Homo sapiens: one gene and its partners. The protein of the gene in region 3 interacts with the protein of the main gene of each other region in a pairwise test. Each region holds a gene or a part of one and is shown on either strand. Other genes may lie near its edges.

The links. The genes of interacting proteins can lie anywhere in the genome.
Region 1: the proteins of RWDD2A (region 3) and MCMBP interact in binary tests that used the Homo sapiens proteins (3 or more experiments, as listed by UniProt).
Region 2: the proteins of RWDD2A (region 3) and ARHGEF6 interact in binary tests that used the Homo sapiens proteins (3 or more experiments, as listed by UniProt).

Annotation. Positions count from the first base shown.
Region 1 is NC_000010.11:119,834,810-119,841,843, forward strand, and holds part of MCMBP (mini-chromosome maintenance complex-binding protein), read right to left. Parts: intron 6,152-7,034; coding exon 6,034-6,151; intron 3,892-6,033; coding exon 3,726-3,891; intron 2,221-3,725; coding exon 2,087-2,220; intron 896-2,086; coding exon 731-895; intron 1-730. UniProt on the Homo sapiens protein: Associated component of the MCM complex that acts as a regulator of DNA replication.
Region 2 is NC_000023.11:136,770,899-136,777,932, forward strand, and holds part of ARHGEF6 (rho guanine nucleotide exchange factor 6), read right to left. Parts: intron 1-7,034. UniProt on the Homo sapiens protein: Acts as a RAC1 guanine nucleotide exchange factor (GEF).
Region 3 is NC_000006.12:83,188,379-83,196,370, reverse strand, and holds the start of RWDD2A (RWD domain-containing protein 2A), read right to left. Parts: upstream 3,015-7,992; 5' UTR 2,928-3,014; exon of another isoform or gene 2,060-2,927; 5' UTR 1,920-2,059; coding exon 1,719-1,919; exon of another isoform or gene 1,103-1,718; coding exon of another isoform or gene 1,100-1,102; intron 777-1,099; coding exon 99-776; 3' UTR 1-98. Other genes in the region: PGM3 (phosphoacetylglucosamine mutase), read left to right, coding at 5,103-5,184, 5,357-5,562, 7,573-7,757.

The DNA of each region.
Region 1 (7,034 bases), on a different chromosome or scaffold from region 3:
CATGATCACAACACTGCACTCTAGCCTGGATGACACAGCGAGACCCTGTCTCAAAAAAAAAAAAAAAAAAAAAAAAGAATTTGCACAAGTAGACCTGCCATGCAAGAAACACTAAAGACAGTTCTTCAGGCTGAAATGAAAAGATACTAGACAGTAACATGAACCCACATGAGGAAATAAAGGGTGCTGGTAAAAGTGATTGCATAGGCAAATAGAAAAAATAGTACAGAAGTCTTTTCCATTTCTAACTTTTTTCTCTAAAAGACAACTGCAAAAGCAGTAATTCTAAATGTGTTGATGGACATACAATGTACTGAGAGGTAATTGTATGACAGGAGCACAAGGGAGAGGAGAAGGAACGGAATTATAAAGGGGCAAAGTCTTTGTATAATATAATTAAAATGGCATTAGCCACACAAATTTTTTTTAAATTAAAAATAACTAAACAAACTGGCATTAATCCCTAATAGATGATTATACTAACATGTTAAGTTTATCCCCCAAAGACAACTACTAAGAAAATAACTTTAAGAAACTTCAAGGGATTAAAATGGGACACTGGAAAATACCTATTTCAAACAAAAAGACAATAATGGAGTAACAGAGGAATAAAAAAAGACATGACAGAAAACAAATAACAAAATTACCTTATCAGTAATTATGGTAAATGTAAATTGGTTGCATACTGCAATTCAACACAGGGAAATCCTTTATTTTAACCTAGACATACCTTGGTTATTTCATCAGATATGCTATATTCCAAGAATCTCAAAAGAGTTAGATAAATGCGGAATTTGTTCAGCACGGAAGGCAGCACCGCTGAGAGAAGGCTGTTCATGTACTCCTCCATGTTTGGTGGAATTAGCTGGGGCTGTAAGTGAATCTGGCAGTCTGCCTGAAAAGAGAAGGAGTACACTGTATTTTCTGAGTTCCTAAATTAATCTACATTTTTAAAGAAAGATGCATCATCTCTGTCAGCCCCTATGGGAATTAGAAAATACCACTTATTATTTAGGGGGAGGGAATAATGTTTTTTTTTCTGTGTGTGAGACAGGGTTTTGTCCTGTCACCCAGGCTGGAGTGCAGTGGTGTGATTGCAGCTCACTGCAACCTGCTTCCCAGGCTCAAGTGATCCTCCCACCTCAGCCTCCTCAGTAGTGGGACCACAGGTGCACGCCACCATGCCTGACTAATTTTGGATTTTTTGTAGAGACAAGTTTCGTCATGTTGTCCAGGCTGGCCTCAAAGTTCTGGGCTCACGCAATCCACCTGCCTTGGCCTCCCAAAGTGCTAGGATTACAGGCGTGAGCCACCGCAGCCAGTGAGCATCTATTTTTAATATTAATTTACATGCTTTATAACTACCTCAGAAATAATTATGAAAGCTTTTTCTTGGTTACTTATGTTTCCTCAATGGTATCAGTAAGCACACAAAAATGTAGCCAACCTCTAAAAAGCAGCTAATTAAAAAGGTCTATCAATACTTGCACACAGAAAACATATCCTTGAGCCATTTCATTCTTAGTCAAAGGCGGTTTCTCATCAATCGCAGGTGAATACTATTATTCAGAGACTACACACCATTTGACAACTGGGAGCATTTCCCATCATCCACAGAATTAAAAGCTCTCTTTACCAGCCACTCTGAAGACATACCAGAGCATTTCACCACAAAGCATGAAAATAACTACCAAGTGACCAAGGACATTTTAAAAGAACTCTGAAATATTTTTCACATAAGATTAGCAGAAAACAATGGGTCAAAGGTAGCAAGAACAGAAGTCTGGATGTTAAAATCAGGCAATCTCGCTATGCTCAGATGTGGGTGTTTCTGCTGCCAACAGCCTTGCTGGTCTCATGACTTGCTGATACCTGAGCTTGGTAGATGTAAGGTTTTCATCCATGGCAGTGCAAAATACTCAATTCCCTTAATGATCAGCAGTCACAGTTTTTTTTTTTTTTTTTTTTTTTTTTTTTTTTTTTTTACAACAAATGTAACTTATTAATAAGCGGTACCAAGAAACAGCAAAAATGTAGGTATTTTTCCAATGTCAACCTCCCTCCATTTAAAAATGACTCATCATACCGGGAGGAGTGACCTCCCCTCCGAAGTAATGAAAACGTTAATATTGCAGGGGAATTCCATCTGATGGTAGCTGAAGTCATAATCCACCTTCTGCCACGTTATGAGGTTGCTCAGGGCTGTCACATTATGAACACCTACAAAGGCAGGAAAACACTTTCAGTCATTTGACTTTAATCATCTAAACACATCAGTTTTGCTGACACCGATGATGAGCCATGAAGTTTCTACCACTTTTAATAAAGGGTATGAGGCGCTGTCCAGTTTACTAAGCTAAACGTCACTAAGTGTGTAGGCTTACAACAGTCTTGGTCAAGGTAGAACTTTCTGGGGGCAGGCGATACCCCCGCAAATCTAATACCTAGCATCTGGTATGCACCTAGACATAAAATAGTTCCCAAGTATGATTATTTCTAAGTGGTGTATTTACAGGGCTAAACCAAGGAAACACTAAAACTACCGTCATACATAGATCAGCCTAGTGAATTTTACAGATTTTATATTCCCCTTTGCCTTAAACATGCCCAGTCTACCTCATTTTTTCTTCTACCTTTACCTCTTGAGCTGATCGCCAGCAGTGTATTCTTAATTGTCTTCATTTGAGCACTGGTAAACAATCTGCTTTCTTGTGATTTTATAATATATTCCGCAACTGAGGTTAGTGCAAACCATTTGATCTATTATTTCTCAGACATTCTCTGAAAACCATTTACAAACTTTACAACGGGAGGTTAAAACATAATTAGCCAGGCGTGATGGCGGGTGCCTGTAGTCCCAGCTACTCGGGAGGCTGAGGCAGGAGAATGGTGTGAACCCGGGAGTTGGAGGTTGCAGTGAGCCAAGATTGGCCACTGCACTCCAGCCTGGGCGACAGAGCAAGACTCCGTCTCAAAACAAAAAAAAAATTATATTAGATCTTTTCTACACTTCCCTTTTGAGGTATTAGATGACTAAAGGCAAAGCTTCCTCCCATTTCAGCTTTTTAAAAAGCTATTTGGGGCAGGTGCAGTGGCTCACACCTGTAATCCCAGCACTGTGGGAGGCCAAGGCAGGAGGATCACTTGAGCCCAGGAATTCAAGATCAGCTGGGCAACATAGCGAGACCCTGTCTCTACCATTCCTTACACTCACTGAAAAAAAAATTTTAGGTTATATACAACTACGCAAAAGAACCCAACACTGTAGGCCCATAAAGACTGCTCCAACCATTCGCTGACACAATAAAACTTTTCACCAAAGAACCCTTACGACCCTCAACATCTAATACTACCCTTTATATTACTGCTCCATTATACTAATACTACCCTTTATATTATTGCTCCATTATATAATATATAAAATATATAATATATGATATATATTAAATGAGACATTATATATTATATATGATATATATTATATAAGATATATTATATAAGATATATATCTGTTCCATTGTACTACTTTCAGAATACTATGGCAAAACATAGTTGGTGTATATAATTAGTTTATAACATATGCTTTAATCAAATTCATATGCCAAGCCTTTATCTTACGTTGTTAAATGTGAATTTGTCCATAGATACTCTTCTAAAAGTTATTCCTAGATCTGGCTTTAGTGCGAAGGAAGTCAGAAATGGAAGAGAAACATCTATGTACGTACCTGGGGTATCCAGCTGCCCCTGTTCCAGGAGAGTCTCATCGATTACAAGGGAAGTATTGCTGGGCAGCTGGAGGAGCCCACTGACCAAGCGATTGGCTGTGTAGTCTTTGTGGGGAATGAATTTCAAATGGTTCATGTTCTCTATAGTCATCTGCAGACGAAAAGACTGCAAAGAGAAATTTTTTAGTGAACAAGAATTTAAGTTTCCCTGTTTTAAGAAAATATGTACTTGGAATTAAACATTGTGTTTCATATGGAAAAAGTGATCTTATAAATTTCTAAGGGAGTAGTGATATGGTTTCTTGAACTCCAGAAGCAAAAATAGTATCTAGATCTTACATTTGAATTTCATCCATTTTATGAGCTACTTTATTCTCAAATGTCTTGTTCAATATTCTTGAAAATCAATTTTAATTTAACCAATGAAACAAATGGTAGATAACTGACATATAAATATTAAATACCCCAAAACCTAACCTCTTTCACCTAACACAAGCTAGCTAGCAAAAAGAAAATGTTAATTTTACTCTTCAAGACAGGGAGAGAAAAGCTTAATTTTCCTCTATATTCTTTGAGTTAAAATTGTATTCATTTATCATAGACATTTTTGAACAAACTTTTCAGAGAAAAATCAAGGAGCAGAGCACACTGAGCTGTGGATGGACCTGCAGCTCTCAGGAGGTGCCTCCAGGACGCGAGCACCTTCTCACTCAGTGTTTAACGAGTAAGCGAACCATCTATGCTCCTCCTCCAGCTCTTGAGCCACCATTCCCAACACCCTCTGTGCTCTGCCTTATACACCAATCCATTCTTCCATCCCTCCAGCCTCAAACAATGTGGCAGGGATGGAGAAGAGGGTATGGTGGGGGAAGGCTGTCAAGGAAGAGGTAAGATATATTGCGAAAATTTAGAGGAGTTTTGTGTATTACCTCAGTGATTCTAAGAAAACGGGGAGCTTAGGGGTGCTTAAATGACCTACCATGTATTAATTTATTTGTTGGTCTTCTACCTAAACTCTGTGAGGGCAAAGGATCTGTTTCAATAATTCTCAAAATGTGGTCCCGAGAACCCCCAGGGAATTGCTTAAACCCTTTTACAGGGTCAATCAGGTCAAAATCATGCATGGATAAAAGATCCTTTCAATGTGCGAGACTAATGAATTTTACCATAGCAGACTATGGAAAGTTTACGAATAGGATTTCAGATTCCACACTTAACTATCTTTAAGAAAATCTCATGTGGACAGTTTTGGTCTAGTATCAAAGACCACCACCCAGTTATCTGCAAAGGCTATCGAAACCATCCTTCCTTTACCATCTACTTTTCCATCTGTGTGAGGCCAGCTTTCCTTCATATACTTCAACCAAAACCTGAGACTACAATAGACTGAAGGCAGAAGCAGATACAAGCATCCATTGTCTCCTATTAATCCAGACATTGAAGAGATTTGCAAGAATGTAAAACAATGTCACCTTTATCACTAATCATTTTTGGCTTGGGAAAAGTTGTTTTTATAAAAATATTTATATGTAATTTTTTATTTTTAATAGGTGTATTTACTTTATCTTCTAGTTTGGTAAATTAATGATAAATATAATCATAACGTGAAAAACAGCTCTTTGAGTATGAACACATTTTTCAGAGTGTAAAGTGAGTCTAAGGAGACTGAGAACTGCTGGTATATTCCAGTCCACTTCTGCTTCTTGAGGGCCTGGACGAGTGTTAGCACTGAGACACTGAATACATTCGGTTCAATAAAGATCTAGTGCACCCTCTTCAATTTCCAAAGAAGTGATCAGTATTTTCAGTCACACAACTAATCAGAAGCAATTCCCCTGTTCCCAAGATCCTACCACCACGCAAATACTGCATTCCAGATACCCTGGCAAATAAAGTGAGCTCAACTTTCCAAACAGGAATTAAAATTGAGGCAATGGAGATAAAGAACTTTATTACCTCAACTAAAAGAATTATGCTCCTACAATTTAGAGTTTATTTAGATTTAAGACTTTAGTGTACAAAAAGGATACCAAATTGGACAAATTGGTATCAAGAGAGTGTAATTTTAAGGGAGTTACTACAATTGTTTTGTTAGACTTACAGAAATTTGTGCTTAGGCAAAAAGACAAAAAAAAGTGAAATGTTTAGGGGAACGTACATTTTAAATTATGTAATTTGGCAGGCTTTGTTTCCCCTTAAATAAGATCTATTAAAATCTCTAAGTTAAATATTTGAAGTGAATGAAAGACAGTTAGATGGATTTTTTAAGTGTGCTTAGGTTTATAATACATATTTATATTCATCTTACTGCTGGAACAAGATGTTGAATAATTCGATACAAGTGTTCTGTGAAGGTACTATTCCGTGGGCAACCACTCAAGTTAACTGTAAATTTTCCTAGTGGAAGGACATCTCTTCTTGTATATCTAGAAAAGAAAGAAATCAATCAATAAGATGCTGAAGTGACTTCCTGATTTCTATCAAATAGCGAAGAATAGAAAAATTAGCTTAATATTGTCATTAAAAATAAACCAGAATATTCTGACCAGTTATTTTATCAGAATAACAGCAATAAAAGTAATAGCCAATATTTGTACGTAAGTGCTGCTGGTCACGTGCCAAAGACCGTTCTGAGTATGTAAATGCTTCCTCATTTAACCCCTAACCATTCAGCGGTAGGTGCTGTTGTCTTTGCTTCACAGATGAGAAATCCGAGGCACAGAGATGATAATAAGCAACATGTTCATCTAAATGGAAGCTGACAGAGCTGGGATATGAATCCGGGTAGTTTGGTTCCAGAGCCTGTGCTCTCAACCATTATGTACTACTGTCACAGACTGATTTGAGAAAAGATAAGATTTACAGCACAAAGATGTTTCCTGCAACTTTATAATAGAGAAAAGCTAGGAAAAGCTAACATTTAGGGAAATGGTTACAGTATGGTACAACTGCATAGTGAAATACTTTGCAGCCACTACAAAGTTCATGAAGCATTATGATGGGAAAATGTTTAATATATATCAACTGCTGAAAACAAGACACGCATCTGTGCTTAGAGTGTAACTAAGACCTATGCAAGGATGTATACATATGTAAACAAAAACCAATGAACATGTACCTAAAGGTTAACGGAGGTTCTAAGTGGTGAAATTACAGATGATGTGCATTTTCCTCCTTATGTTCTTGGAACTTGTCAAAGGCCCACACTAGTTTTAAAATGAGAAACAAAGAAATACAGTGGAGTCAAGGGATGCGGTGCTAGTGTCAATGTCCACGTTAAACGTGCACATGACGTGGGCGCCTTGGGAT
Region 2 (7,034 bases), on a different chromosome or scaffold from region 3:
AGGTAGGACAATCACCTGAGCCCAGGAGTTTGAGACTGCAGTGAGCTGTAATCACACCACTGCACTCCAGCCTGGGCAACAGAGTAAGACCTTGTCTCAAAAAAATAATTATATTTCTATACACTTGCAGTGAACAATTTAAATACCAAATCAAGAAAACAATCCTATTTTTTTATAACACCAAAAATAATAAAATCCTTTGGAATAAATTGAACCAAGCAGGTATAAGACATGTACACTGAAAAGTACATAATATTGCTGAATGAAACTAAAGACAAATAAGTGGAAATACATCCCATAAGACAAATAAGTGGAAATACATCCCATGTTCATGGATTCAAACATTTAATATTATTAAGATGGCAACACTCTCCAAAGCAATCTATAGATTGAACACAATCACTATCAAAATCTCAGCTGGCCTTTTTTGTAGAAATTGACAAGCTGATCCTAAAATTCATATGGACATGCGAGGGATCCAGAATGGCCAAAGTGATTTTGAAAATGAAGAACAAAGTTGAAGGACCCGCTTTTAAAACTTACTACGTAGCTACATTAATCAGTTCAATGGAGGAATTGGCTAATGTTGTCTTTTCAACAAATGTTACTGAAACAACTGGATGTGCATATGCAAAAGAATGAATTTGGACCCGTACCTCCTACCATATACAAAAATTAACTCAAAATAGATCAAAGACCTTAATGTAAGAAGTAAAACTATATTATTCTTAGGAGAAAACAGGAAAAAAATTCTTCAAGACATTTGATTATGAGTTTCTTAGATATGACACCAAAAGCACAAGCAACAAAAGAGATGAATTTGACTTCATCAAAATTAAAAACTTTTGGACAGGCAATAACAAATGCTGGAGAGGATGTGGAGAAAAGGGAACCCTCATACACTGCTGGTGGGAACGTAAATTAATACAACCATTATGGACAGTTTGGAGGTGCCTCGAAAAACTGAAAATTGAGCTACCATATGATCCAGCAATCCCACTGCTGGGTATGTTACCCAAAAGAAAGGAAATCAGTATATGGAAGAGATAACGGCGCTCCTATGTTTGTTGCAGTACTGTTCACAAATAGCTAAGATTTGGAAGCAACCTAACTGTCCACCAACAAATGAATGGATAAAGAAAATGTGGTATGTATACACAATGGAGTACTATTCAGCCATAAAGAAGAATGAGAATCAGTCATTTGCAACAACATGGATGGAACTAGAGATCATTATGTTAAGTGAAATAAGCCAGGTACAGAAAGACAAACATCACATGTCCTCACTTATTTGTGGGATCTAAAAATAAAAACAATTGAACTAATGGGCATAGAGAGTAGAAGACAGGTTACCAGAGGCTGAGAAGTATATTGGGGAAGGAGGCAGGAATGGTTAATGGGTACAAAAAAAATTGAAAGAATGAATAAGGCCCATTTGATAGCACAACAGGGTGACTATAGTCAATAATAATTGTACTTATTAAAATAACTTAAAGAGTGTAATTGAATTGTTTGTAACACAAAGGATAAATGCTTGAGGGTATGGATACCCCACTCTCCATGATGGGATTATTACACATTGCATGCCTGTATCACAACATTTCATGTACCCCACAAATATATACACCTGCTATGTACCCACAAAAATTGAAAGTAAAAAACAAAAATGTCTAATTAATAAATTTTTGTGGGCCAGGCACAGTGGCTTACGCCTGTAATCCCAGCCTTTTGGGAGGCTGAGGCAGGTGGATCACTTGAGGCCAGGAGAGGCTGGACAATATGGCAAAACCCCGTCTCTACTTAAAAATACAAAAATTAGCCAGGCATAGTGGCAGGCACCTGTAATCCCAGCTACTTGGGAGGCTGAGGCATGAGAATCACTTGAACCCAAGAGGCCAAAGTTGCCGTGAGCCAAGATTGTGCCACTGCACTCCAGCCTGGGAGACAGAGCAAGACTCCGTCTCAAACAAACAGACAACAACAACAAAAAAAATTGTGTTACAAAGGACACTATCAAGAAGGTGGTGGGGTGCTTCCGAGAGCACTTTGTTCCCAGATGTCTCAGCAGACTTTCCTGATCAGTTACTAAATGTGTGATCCTCTAAAGACCCTAAGACATTGTAGCCATATGAGAACACACAGATGGGGGTTACTTGGAGAAGCCGACTGGCCACCCAGAGGACCAGAAGGCAACAGCTTTTTTAATGTCGTCACCATGCCCCAGAGCCCAGTACTCAATTTGTCGGTACGGTGCTGCATCTGCGGCTCCATTTTTCTGCATTTCCAAGCTGACAATTTCAAGCCGGTATGCTTTCTTTAGATAAATAATATTGTGTTCTAAGCAACAGTCAAGCCCTGCTCTTCTTGCTTTTTGTACATCTACAGTTTTATAGGGTCAACAAAAATCTATTAGGTATGTCCTATGCCAGGCACTGTGCCAGGCACTTTGGGCCCGAGAGAGACTCTATCCAGGGACATTTGCAAATATTTATGTTTAAGTCTGTCTTCCAGCTACCTGGAAGCTTCAGACAAGATGATGAGTCTTCTTGGCTGCTTCGTGCTCCCCAGCTCAGCTTTCGGTCTCATTCCTTATGTATTGATTTTATTAGTCTTCTTTCTGGGTTCTAGGAGTGCCTCAATATGGCTCCTATATATACCTTACAAGAATAATTTTGCACACAACAATGCAGAGAACATTACCGAGTAATAACACCACAGAAAACAGCTATTGTGTATGCCTTATGTGCAGTGCTATATTAAGTGCCTTGGATGTATTATCTCATTTGATCCTTAAAACAATCATATACAGCAGATACTATTAATGTCTCCATTATACAGATGAGGAAAAAGGAGCATAGAGAGGTCAAGTAACTGTCCCAGAGTTATGCAGCCAGTAATTGACCAAGCCAAGATTCTAATCTAGGTCTGCCAAACTAGAGAAGGCATGTGCTTAACCACGATGTCAGATATTGCCTCATTACAATATTCATATAATGCCCAGGTCAGCATGAATTACCAAAAAGAGATAAAAGTGTTTCCAGTGCCTTTTATTTAAGAAGAGAGAAAATTAAGACATACATTTTAGAAATATTTCTATCTTGTGCTCACTTCAGCAGCCCATATACTAAAATTGGAACGATACAGAGAATATTCATATGGCCCCTGTACGAGAATAACACAAAAATTTGTGAAGTGTCCCATAAAAAAATAAAAGTAATAAACATAATTTTTTTAAACAATAAATATTTCTATCCAAAGTGGAAGAATATTTTAAGCATTGGTGCTTAAAGGAGTAAGCATTAGTTATCAGAAAAATCCTGAACAATGCCTAACCTGGAAGGTGTTTCTGTATCATCCAGTATTCTTAGAACTGCAAAGAAGCTAAGTAAACCTTCTGGCAGCTTTAGAATGCAGAAATCATTGGCAACTTCACCATGTTTTTATTTGAAAAAAAAAAATACCATAGTATTGGCCAGGCGTGGTGGCTCATGCCTGTAATCCCAGCATTTTGGGATGCCAAGGTGGGCAGATCACTTGAGGTCAGGAGCTTGAGATCAGCCTGGCCAACATGGTGAAACTCCGTCTCTACTAAAAATACAAAAATTAGCCGGGCGTGGTGGCGCGTGCCTGTAATCCCAGCTACTTGAGAGGCTGAGGCATGAGAATTGCTTGAGCCCAGGAGGCAGAGGTTGCAGTGAGCAGAGATGACACCACTGCACTCCAGACTGGGTGACAGAGCAAAACTCTGTCTCAAAAAAAAAAAAAAAAAGGAATAAAAAAGAAAATATCATAGTATTTATTAAAGAAAAATTTAAAATTTCCTGAAGAGTCTGGACCATAATAGAAAAAAAAAAGAAAATTCCATAGTAGACATTATTCTACAAGGGATATAAAGTGGTCACCCATCACACCTACCTCAAAAGTCACACACACAGACCCACACATAAATAGAGAGAGAGAAAGAAACAGAGATTGAGAGAGAGAGTGCAAATTAGGCAATAGGGGAAAATGGAATAAAATATTCTGAAACAGATATAACCTGGTCCTAGGGCTAACTTTAGGAAAAATGGTGAAGGAAGCAAAGTTTATCTGGGGCAAAGCTACCAGCATTGCTAATAATAATATCTACCATGCAGAGAATACTTACTACATTCCGGGCACTCTTCTGGGGCCTTTACATATATGAATTCCTTGAAATGTCACATGATTCTATCAGACATTCAAAGAAAAATTGGTACCAATCCTTCTAAAACTATCCCAAAAGACAGAGAGAGATAATCCTCCCTAAATCATTCTATGAAGCCAGTATTACCCTCAAACCAAAACCAGAAACAGACATGACAAAAAAAGAAAACTACAGACCAGTACCCCTGATGAACATAGATGCAAAAATTCTCAACAAAATACTAGGTAACTGAATCCAATACCATATCAAAAAGATAATACACCATGATCAAATGGGTTTCATACCAGGGATGCAGGTTTGGTTTAACACATGCAAGTCAATAAATGTGATACACCACATAAACAGAATTAAAAACAAAAATCACATGATCATCTCAATAGATGCAGAAAAAGCATTTGACAAAATCCAGCATCCCTTTATGATTAAAACCCTCCACAAAATCAGCATGGAAGGGACATACCTTAAGGTAATAAAAGCCATCTATGACAAACCCACAGCCAACATTATATTGAACAGGGAAAAGATGAAAACATTCTTCCTGAGAACTGGAACTGGACAAGGATGCCCCCTTTCACCATTTCTGTTCAACATAGTCCTGGAAGTCCTAGCCAGAGCAATCAGACAAAAGAAAGAAATAAGGGGCATCCAAATCGGTAAAGAGGAAGTCAAACTCTCACTGTTTGCTGATGATATGATTGTATACCTAGAAAACCCTAAAGACTCATCCAAAAAGCTCCTAGATCTGAAAAATGAATTCAGTAAAGTTCAGGATACAAAATCAATATGTCAGTAACACTACTATACACCAACAGCAACCAAGCTGAGAATCAAATCAAGAACTCAACCCCTTTTACAACAGCTGCAAAAAAAATAATATACTTAGGCATATACCTAACCCAGGAGGTGAAAGATCTCTACAAGGAAAACTACAAAACACTGCTGAAAGAAATCATAGATGACACAAACAAATGGAAACACATCCCATGCTCATGGATGGGTAGAATCAATATTGTGAAAAAGACCATACTGCTAAAAACAATCTACAAATTCAACGCAATTCCCATCAAAATACCATAATAATTCTTGACAGAACTAGAAAAAACAATCCTAAAATTCATATGAAACCCAAAAAGAACACACATAGCCAAAGCAAGATTAAACAAAAAGAACAAATCTAGAGGCATCACATTACCCGACTTCAAACTATACTACAAGCCTGTAGTTACCAAAATAGCATGGTAGTGGTATAAAAATAGGCACATAAACCAATGACACAGAATAGAGAACCCAGAAATAAAGCCCAATACTTACAGCCAACTGGTCTTTGACAAAGCAAACAAAAACATAAACTGGGGAAAGGACACCCTATTCAACAAATGGTGCTGGGATATTTGGCAAGCCACATGTAGGAGAATGAACCTGGATCCTCATCTCTCACCGCATCTCTCATCTCTCACCTCTCTACAAAAATCAACTCAAGATGGACCAAGGACTTAAATCTAAGACCTGAAATCATAAAAATTCTAGAAGACAACATTGGAAAAACTCTTCTAGGTATTGGCTTTGGCAAAGAGTTCATGACCAAGAACTCAAAAACAAAGGCAACAAAAACAAAGATAAATAGATGGGACCTAATTAAACTAAAAAATTTCTGCACAGCAAAATAAATAATCAGCAGAGTAAACAGACAACTCACAATGTGGGAGAAAATATTCCCAAACTATGCATCTGACAAAGGTCTAATATCCAGAATCGACAAGGAACTCAAACAAATCAGCAAAAATAAATAAATAGATAAATAAATAAATAAATAAATAAATAAATAAATAAATAAAGTAGAAATAAAAATAAACAAATAGGCCGGGTGCGGTGGCTCACGCCTGTAATCCCAGCACTTTGGGAGACCCAGGCGGGCGGATCACCTGAGGTCAGGAGTTTGAGACCAGCCTGGCCAACATAGTGAAACCCTGTCTCTACTAACAACACAAAAATTAGCCAGGCATGGTGGCGGGCGCCTGTATTCCCAGCTACTCAGGAGGCTGAGGCAGGAGAATCGCTGGAACCAGGGAGGTAGAGGTTGCAGTGAGCCAAGATCACACCACTGCATTCCAGCTTGGGCAACAGAGTGAGACTCAGTCTCAAAAAACAAAACAAAACAAAAACAAAAAACAAATAATCCCATCAAAAAGTGGGCTAAGGACATGAATAGACAATTCTCAAAGAACATATACAAATGGCCAAGAAACATATGAAAAAATGCTCAACATCACTAAGCACTGGAAATGCAAATCAAACCACAATGAGATATCACCTCACTCCTGCAGAAATGGCCACAATTAAAAAAAAAACAAAAAATATTAGATGTTGGCATGAATGTGGTGAAAAGGAAACACTTCTACACTGCTGGTGGGAATGTAAACTAGTACAACCACTATGGAAAACCTTAAGTATGGAGATTCCTTAAAGAAGTAAAAGTAGAACTACCATTTGATCCAGTAATCCTACTACTGAGTATCTACCCAGAGGAAAAGAAGTCACTATATGAAAAGGACACTTGCACACACATATTTATAGTAGCACAATTTGCAATTGCAAAGTTATGGACCCAGCCTAAATGCCCATCAGCCAAAGAGTGGATAAAGAAAATGTAATATACATATATATAATATGTATACATACACACACACACACACACACACACACCATGGAATACTACTCAGCCATAAGAAGGAACAAAATAATGGCATTCACGACAACCTGGGTGGAGGTGGAGACCATTATTCTAAGGGAAGTAACTCAGGAATGGAAAACCAAACATCATATGTTCTCACTTATAAGGGGGAGCTAA
Region 3 (7,992 bases):
ACTGAGGATGCTACACAGCCACTAGCCTTTTTAATTTGGTCTTATTAACAGAAATACTGACTTAGTGAAATTACAGGCATAGGCCTCTTAATCGCTTTTTATGAGTCTGAACTTTTGCTTTCAATACCAAATAGTATCTGAAAAACATGCTCACTTTTGTGCTTCTTGAGAAATTCTAAGAATTGGCCCAGATTCATGTGATAGTCATTCCTTAATCCATAGTCACCATGAGCCTCAAGGAGTAACTCTTCAAAAGAATGGAAAAGGCGCAGGTCCTCACCATTTCCTTCTGTCTCCACGCTTTCAGCATGCTTACAGGAAATGTGCTTCCAATTGGGGTACCTAATTGTGTGCCAGAACTCCTCACAGTGCTCTTTGAAACCCTCCACACAGATTATACCAGGCTTTCCTGTCATGCAAAATCCAGTCACATCTAACCTTTTCCCAACATCCAAAATCTTTTTCCTTAGGTCCTGCTGATATATATGGTGACTGTAGATCCACATTCGGAGGAATGTGTTCTTGACTGGCTTTGCTTGTGTAGATGGTTCATATACAAGCTTTCTGTTCAGGAAATAAGATGCACTGTTGTCCTGTAGCCACTGGATTGCTGCACATACACAGAGCTCACCTGGATCAAAAGTCCCTATGTAAGAAGTGAGACCTTTGTTGAGAAGTAGCTGCTGATGTCTGTCAAGTTCAGATGACCGTCCAAACAGCTGCAATGCTACATAGGGGTAGCTGTGAGGCATGGTCACTTGCAAATCAATTTTCACCTTAAAATGAAAATCAAATAGATTTAAATACCATAACATCACATAAGCTAGTTTATCAATAGCAACTGCATGATTTTGAGAAATGTTATTGCTACTATTAAATGTACCAGGTACTTTACATACATGATTGCTTCCTTTTATGCATTATTTCAATATTTATTGAACAACTACGTGTGCCAGGTGCCCTTGTGCTGGGATAAAAAAGTGAATAAACCAGACACTATTTTTGCCCTTCATGAAGTCCAGGGCCTAGTGAAGGAGACACACATTAAACAAATAATTACATATAGCAAGTATTTAATTTCAATTGTGAAAAGCATTACCATGGAAAAGTGGAGGGTTCCATTGAAGTGTGTAACCAGCGGGACAGAATCCAGTCTGGAGAACCAGAAAGTCTCCTCTGAGGGAATAACAACTGAAGGATGAGTAGGAAATAGCTACAACAGTGGTTCTCAAATGCCCAGTCCACGTATTACCTATGCTATGCTAATGTTGCTGGAGATAAATGGATCAGAAGATGGAGGTAAATTCATTTTTAGTCTTTAGATTTTTCCATCCATATTTGCTTTCTGTGTTATGGTGCCATCAAAAAATCCACTCATTCACTCCTTAAAAGACAGTTATGTTACAGGAGATATTTAGATTTATGAAAATCATGATACATGTGAAAGGTAGTCCAACTGGATGGGTGAACAAAATAATAATGGCATAAGACTGCAAGATAGCGTCAATAAAAACTCCAGGTATATTTGTTAAAAAGGTGTATATGTTTACATAAAATTAAAGATATTTACTGAAGACAATTTATAGAGCATTCCGTATCTTTCAAACAAGGAAATATGCACCTGGAATATTTCTATCTTTCCTTGACAGAAAGCTCATGTTCTAGATGTTTCAATTAAAAACTGGGCACCTGGCAAACACTTAAATCAGGGTACCTACCTTGGGCTCTTCAATCTGGAGTGTAATTACAAATTCGATTTTTGGTGGCAGCGCCTCCCTTGTGCCTTCCAAATACCTCTTTATATTCGTCAGGGCATTTACATCTTCAAGTTTTACTTCTCCTTGGTTAGGAAACATAGAAAACAGCATTTCCATCTCCAGTAGCTGAAGCTGAAGGCTTTCTTTCACCGAAGCAGACATGTTGCCTCGCAATCAGCCTGCCTGGAAACCTCACAAGGCTCAGGGACGCTGGGTTTGTCAATGCCAGCCGGTATCCAGCGAAATTTCCCGAAGGTCCCTTTACGTGGAAGCAATTCTGCAGGAACGCTTTGCACCGAGAGCTAGGGGCACAAACCAGACACTTGCACTCTTCTTTATTTCCTGACTCCAAAATCTAGTATGCACAACATCCTCTAAAACACTCCGTAAAAACCCATATTCTGCGTACCCGGGCTCCGGGTTCCCGCCTCCCGCACCCCGCACTAGATAGGGGAATCTGCACTTTCAACAGGTGTTTGGAACTGTCCCGCTGCAGGTGGCAGGCAGACACCTGCAGACGCTCTGCAAGCCTGAATTCTGGGAAAGGCTGGGGCCCGGCTTCCAATCCCACCCGGGGCTCGGGCTTGGGCGGAGCCAGACGCTGCGGCGAGAGAGGCCGCAGTGCCAGCAGGATGGGCTCCGAGTTCCCCAGCGCCAGTCGCCACCCCTCGGTCCTGGACTCGCGGACCGCCCCCCCCCAACACCGCGGTGGCCTTTTCGCTTGGGCCGCATTCCAGGGCTCCGGACGTTTACGATTCACTGGCCTCTGCCCCGAGGGACCCAGGATAAGGGTAGGGGGTGTCTCAGAGGTCATTAAATAAAAGATGTTTACAGTGAGCTGGGGGAAGGGGGTACCCGGGGAGACGGCAGCCGGAGAAGGCTTCCCAGATTCAAAGGTTTGGGAGATGACCTCGACGTCGGAGAGGGGGATGCGGGCCGCCGGCGGCGCTCACTGTGGGCGAGGTCGCCCTGTCCGAGGCCCAGCGACGGGGCTGATTCCCCACCCCCGCCCCTAGCCAAGACCACTAGGAACCCCGGCTTCCCAGGAACGCAGGGCCTGCCGCCCCCAGAGGCCCGGATTTGGAGGCGGAGGCTGTGCCTCCGCGGCCGCAGTGCTCTGAGGGCCCGCGACCCTCGGCCCCAACCCCCGGGCCACCGCGGGGGCCTCACCCTTTCTGGTCACTCAATGGTAACAGCCCCAGACCCCGCTCGGAACCGCAGCCGCAGTTCCTCAGGCGCCAGCTGCGCGCGACCTGCGGCGAGGCGGGGGCGGGGCTGGCGGATAGTCCTCTGCCGTGATTGGCCAGGGGGCGTGGCGACGAGCCGGAAGCCACGCAGGGCCACGTCTGCGGTTCTGAGGACTGGGTTTGGGTGCAGACGTTGTTGCTTGGGCGCTTCTCCGCTGCGTGTAGGTGAAGGGGGCTTCCTGACCGAGGTAAGCCGGGCCCCGAGGCTCGGAGTTGAGAAGGGAGACTACCGGTCGGCAAGGGCTCGGTGGGAGCGGGACAGGTCAGATTCTCGGCCCGACGGAGGGGCTAGTGGTCTGGCGGGCGACTGACCGAGCGGCGGAGCGCGCGGGACACACCTACAGGCCCCTGCGCCCCGCGGGCGGGCTGGTCGGGACGGGCCGCGGGTCTCCTGCCGGGGCTCTGGTACGTGGACCTAGGCGGGGACCTCAGGGTGGAGTGCCGGGAATCACCCTTGTGCGGTGATTCGAGGGTAGGCGGGAGAGAGGCACCAAGGAGATTTGAAGATTGAATGGAGAGTAGGGGGATACTCTTAACTTTTTGCGTGGACGCTGGATTTGGCAAATATGCTTTCAATAAAGGCATTCGCAGAGGCATTGAAAGTAGTTGTAGGGCCTAAAACGCATGAAAGGATGAACTCATATTATCTGGACCTTTTTTTTTTTAATGGCTTTTTGGAGTTAACAGGACTGGTTTACACTCTTATGAATAATCATGACACATAACTGACTGCTCAGTTTTTACAAATATGTATTCATCCTTAGGAAAGAGATCTGATCACTGTCTTGAACTAAATTAGTTTACTGAATGCCAGCTTTTTCCAACTGGACAAAAGCAAGTATTTTTCACCATTTCTTGCAAGTTCTGTTCATTGAAGCAATGAAGGACAATAAAGAAAACAAAATTATGAGGCTAGCAGCTGGCGGACTGCTCCTCATCTCTGGGCTAATTGGGAATTAATTGACCCAGGAAATGTAGTATATGGACTACTGAAGGAAAACTACTGACTGAGGTTGGAAACCCCAAGTTCCACTTAATGGGAGTATCCCAGAGAAAACAGTATTAGTGGGCTAAGGGCCGATTTTTTGTTGTTGTTTGTTTTGAGACGGAGTCTCACCCTGTCGCCCAGCCTGGAGTGCAGTGGCGCGATCTCGGCTCACTGCGACCTCCACCCGCGGGTTCAAGCGATTCTCCTGCGTCAGCCTCCTGAGTAGCTGGGACTACAGGCGCGCACCACCACGCCAGGCTACTTTTTGTATTTTTAGTAGAGACAAGGGTCTCACCATGTTGGTCAGGCTGGTCTTGAATTCCTGACCTCGTGATCCGCCCGCCTTGGCCTCCCAAAATGCCGGGATTACAGGCCTGAGCCACCTCACCTGGCCTGTTTTTTTTTTTTTTTTTTTTTTTTGAGACCGAGTCTCCCTTTGTCACCCAGGCTGGAGTGCAGTGGCGCGATCTCGGCTCACTGCAACCTCTGCCTCCCGAGTAGCTGGGATTACAGGCGCCAGCTAACACGCCCGACTAATTTTTTTGTATTTTTAATAGAGAGGCGGTTTCGCCATGTTGGCCAGGCTGGTTTCAAACTCCTGACCTCAGGTGATCCGCCTGCCTTGGCCTCTCAAAGTGCTAAGATTACTGGCGTGAGCCACCGCTCCCGGCCGATGTTTTATTTTTAAAAGTAAAGGAAAAAGGTGGCATTCTTTCAGAAGAAGATATTGCTAGTTTTAGAGCAACATCTTAGAAGGGTGTCCTGATTGTTTTTAGCAAATGGAAAAAGATCTGGGTAGTCTTGGAGAAGAAACTGTTGCCTTTTGCTTTTCCTTTAAGAATATGTCTCTGTAGTTTGGGAGAAATAGCAAAAGAACCACAAAGATTTCTCAGATATTTGGGGATATGTAGTTTCAGTCCACTCAAGAATCTGACTTTAGGCCTCAATCCGTCACCAGCTATCTATGTTAATTTAGGTTAGTTTCCCTTTTTGTAAAATGAAATGATCTTTGAGCTCATTGGAGTCTCTGAATAGGTGTAAAATCTTCATTTTAGTTGAGAGTGGACCAATTTAAGTGTGCCCGGCGTCCAGGATAGTCCTGGAGCTAAAATGGGAGGAGAGTGGGGACAATCTGCTATCTGCCCTGAGTCTGCCCAGGAGTGGACATACCAAGTTGGACAACATCTTGTAGGTAATTCTAACCCACAGGACTTACTCTCCTGCCCATTGCTCTGTCAAACATAGGGTTCTTTGAGGAGGTTCAGGATGAGACAGACCTATTCGTTTGGGGTGGCAGTTTTTGAAGCAAATGGTTCTTAAGAAATTACTTGTTATGCCCGAAACAATATTTCTTAATTTTGTAGACATGGATTTAGGTGCTATTACAAAATACTCAGCATTACACGCCAAGCCCAATGGACTGATCCTTCAATACGGGACTGCTGGATTTCGAACGAAGGCAGAACATCTTGATCATGTCATGTTTCGCATGGGATTATTAGCTGTCCTGAGGTCAAAACAGACAAAATCCACTATAGGAGTCATGGTAACAGCGTCCCACAATCCTGAGGTAATGGGTTTAGTGCCCTGATAAAGCAGACCATTATTTACAAGACCAAGCCTTAGTGTCTGAGCAAATTGACCTAAAGTACAAATTCTAATTCTAGGAATGTGCCTTCTCATTTATATGTGCTTTGGATGTGAAACAACTTTTTTTTTTTAAGAGCATGATCATTAAGCTCATGATTCCTAAGGGTGTGGAAAGAATGAAAAGATACTGTCATTTTTTGGAGTGTCCATATTAGAGAAATAACAATGTCCTTCCAAATTTATTGATTTAAGACATTTTCAGTAATTGAAAATTGTTTCCTTTGTTAACTTAGCAGTGATTAAAGATATTGGGGTTGGGTGGGGAAGGGTAAAGATTTGAAAAGAAACATTTTGAACATTTTCAGACAGGTTTTTATAGCTCGGCAATAATTTCTTGTTCTGAATGAACAAACAGGTGAGCTTTGGCAGAATATTGATGACGCCTGATAGTTCTAGTCTTTGTGACAGTTAGATTTTAATCAAAGTATTCTTTTTGACACAATTATTTTTTCAGCTTTATTGAGGTATAAGTGATAAATAAAAATTGTATAATTCAAGTCATACAACACCATGTTTTGATATATGTATACATTGTGAAATGATTACCACTATCAGGCTAATTAACATATCCATTAGCTCACATAGTTACCTTGTTTTGTGGTGGGAATACTTAAGACGTACGCTCAACACATTTTCAATATATATTATTATGAACTATAGTCACCACGCTGTACGTTAGTCTTCCAGAACTTATTCATCTTATAACTGCAAGTTTATGCCCATTGGCCAGCATCTCCCCATTTCCCTTACCCTCTAGCCGCCACCATACTACTCTGTGTTTCTGTGAGTTTCACTTTTTTACATAACACATGTATGTTATGAGCCTGCAGTATTTGTCTTCATGTGTCTGGCTTATTTAACTTCGCATAATGTCTTCCAGATTCAACCATGATGCAAATGGCAGTATTTCTTTTTTAAGGCTGAATAATATTCTATTGTGTATATATACCACATTTTCTTCATCCATTTATCTGTTTATGAGCACTTTTGTTGTTTCTATATCTTAGCCAACCTCTTGACACAATGTAGTTATTCTTTATTAGCTATAGGCCATTAATACAGGGTTTGAATAATATGCTTCTATTTGATTGCTGGGGCTGTGGGATTTTTGCCTTTGTAGCTAAATCAGCAGCAAGTTAAAGTGGTGTAGGTCTGTGAAGGATTGTAACCTCCTCTTCCCCCAAACAAGGGCATTGCTTGTCCAAATATGTGATCATTATAAATGTGTATATGTCTAAATATGTAAGTCACCATAATTGATTGACTGATTGACTTCTAGGAAGACCCTCACATTTATTGCTAGTTCCAGAGGCACTTCTCAAAATGATTCTCTTTTCTTTCAGGTGACATTCACTGTGAACTACACTTTCTTTCCACGAATTTGAGCAGAACAGTGTTGGGAGGCAGTTTTCAGTGTCTGTCCTACCCGCTGGTTGACAAGCTGGCTAGTGTGTTCTTGGAGTTCCGAGTCATAGTGAGAAGGATCTCTGTGTGCCCTTATTCTGCTCCACTTGTGCCCTAGTCAGTTTATGGATAGTGGATGCACAGATCACAGCCTTTTACAAAGGCTAGTGTGGCATAGTGTTTTTAGGCGAGTAAGATAGACTTGCTGTTTTAATATCAGTACTGACATTTGTTAGCTGTATGATCATAAGCAAATTACCTAACCTCTCTGAAGCTCAGTTTTCTCGAAGATTGAAATTAAAATAGGATTATTAGTTTAATTGATTATGTGTGTCATGAGGATTTAATGAGGTAATATATATACATAAAATACCTAATCCAGGGTCCAGTATTAATATTTGGTGTTTATTGTTGAAGCTGCTCAGCCATCACTGTCTTTGGTTGAAGGGAAACAGCTTTTGAGTTCTGTTCTCAACTCAGCCTCATGAGTATGCACAGATTGCTTATTGTTTGTTTTTCTTTTAAGGAAGACAATGGTGTAAAATTGGTTGATCCTTTGGGTGAAATGTTGGCACCATCCTGGGAGGAACATGCCACCTGTTTAGCAAATGCTGAGGAACAAGATATGCAGAGAGTGCTTATTGACATCAGCGAGAAAGAAGCTGTGAATCTGCAACAAGATGCCTTTGTAGTTATTGGTAGAGATACCAGGTGATGATAAGAGTTACTGGTAAAAAAAAAAACCTTTGGGAACGTGATATAAACGATTGTATCAGTTTTAATCCAAGACAAATGGAAAGAAGTAAAGTGGAACTACCCTGAGTTGCATGTCTACCTGCCTGGCCTTTCTAGTAGGATGTAGTAGCTAAGTCACTACTGCAGCTTGGGGTTTGGAGTCTGACTCTGGTTTAAAACCCTACTCCAAAACCCAAGCTGCAGAATAATG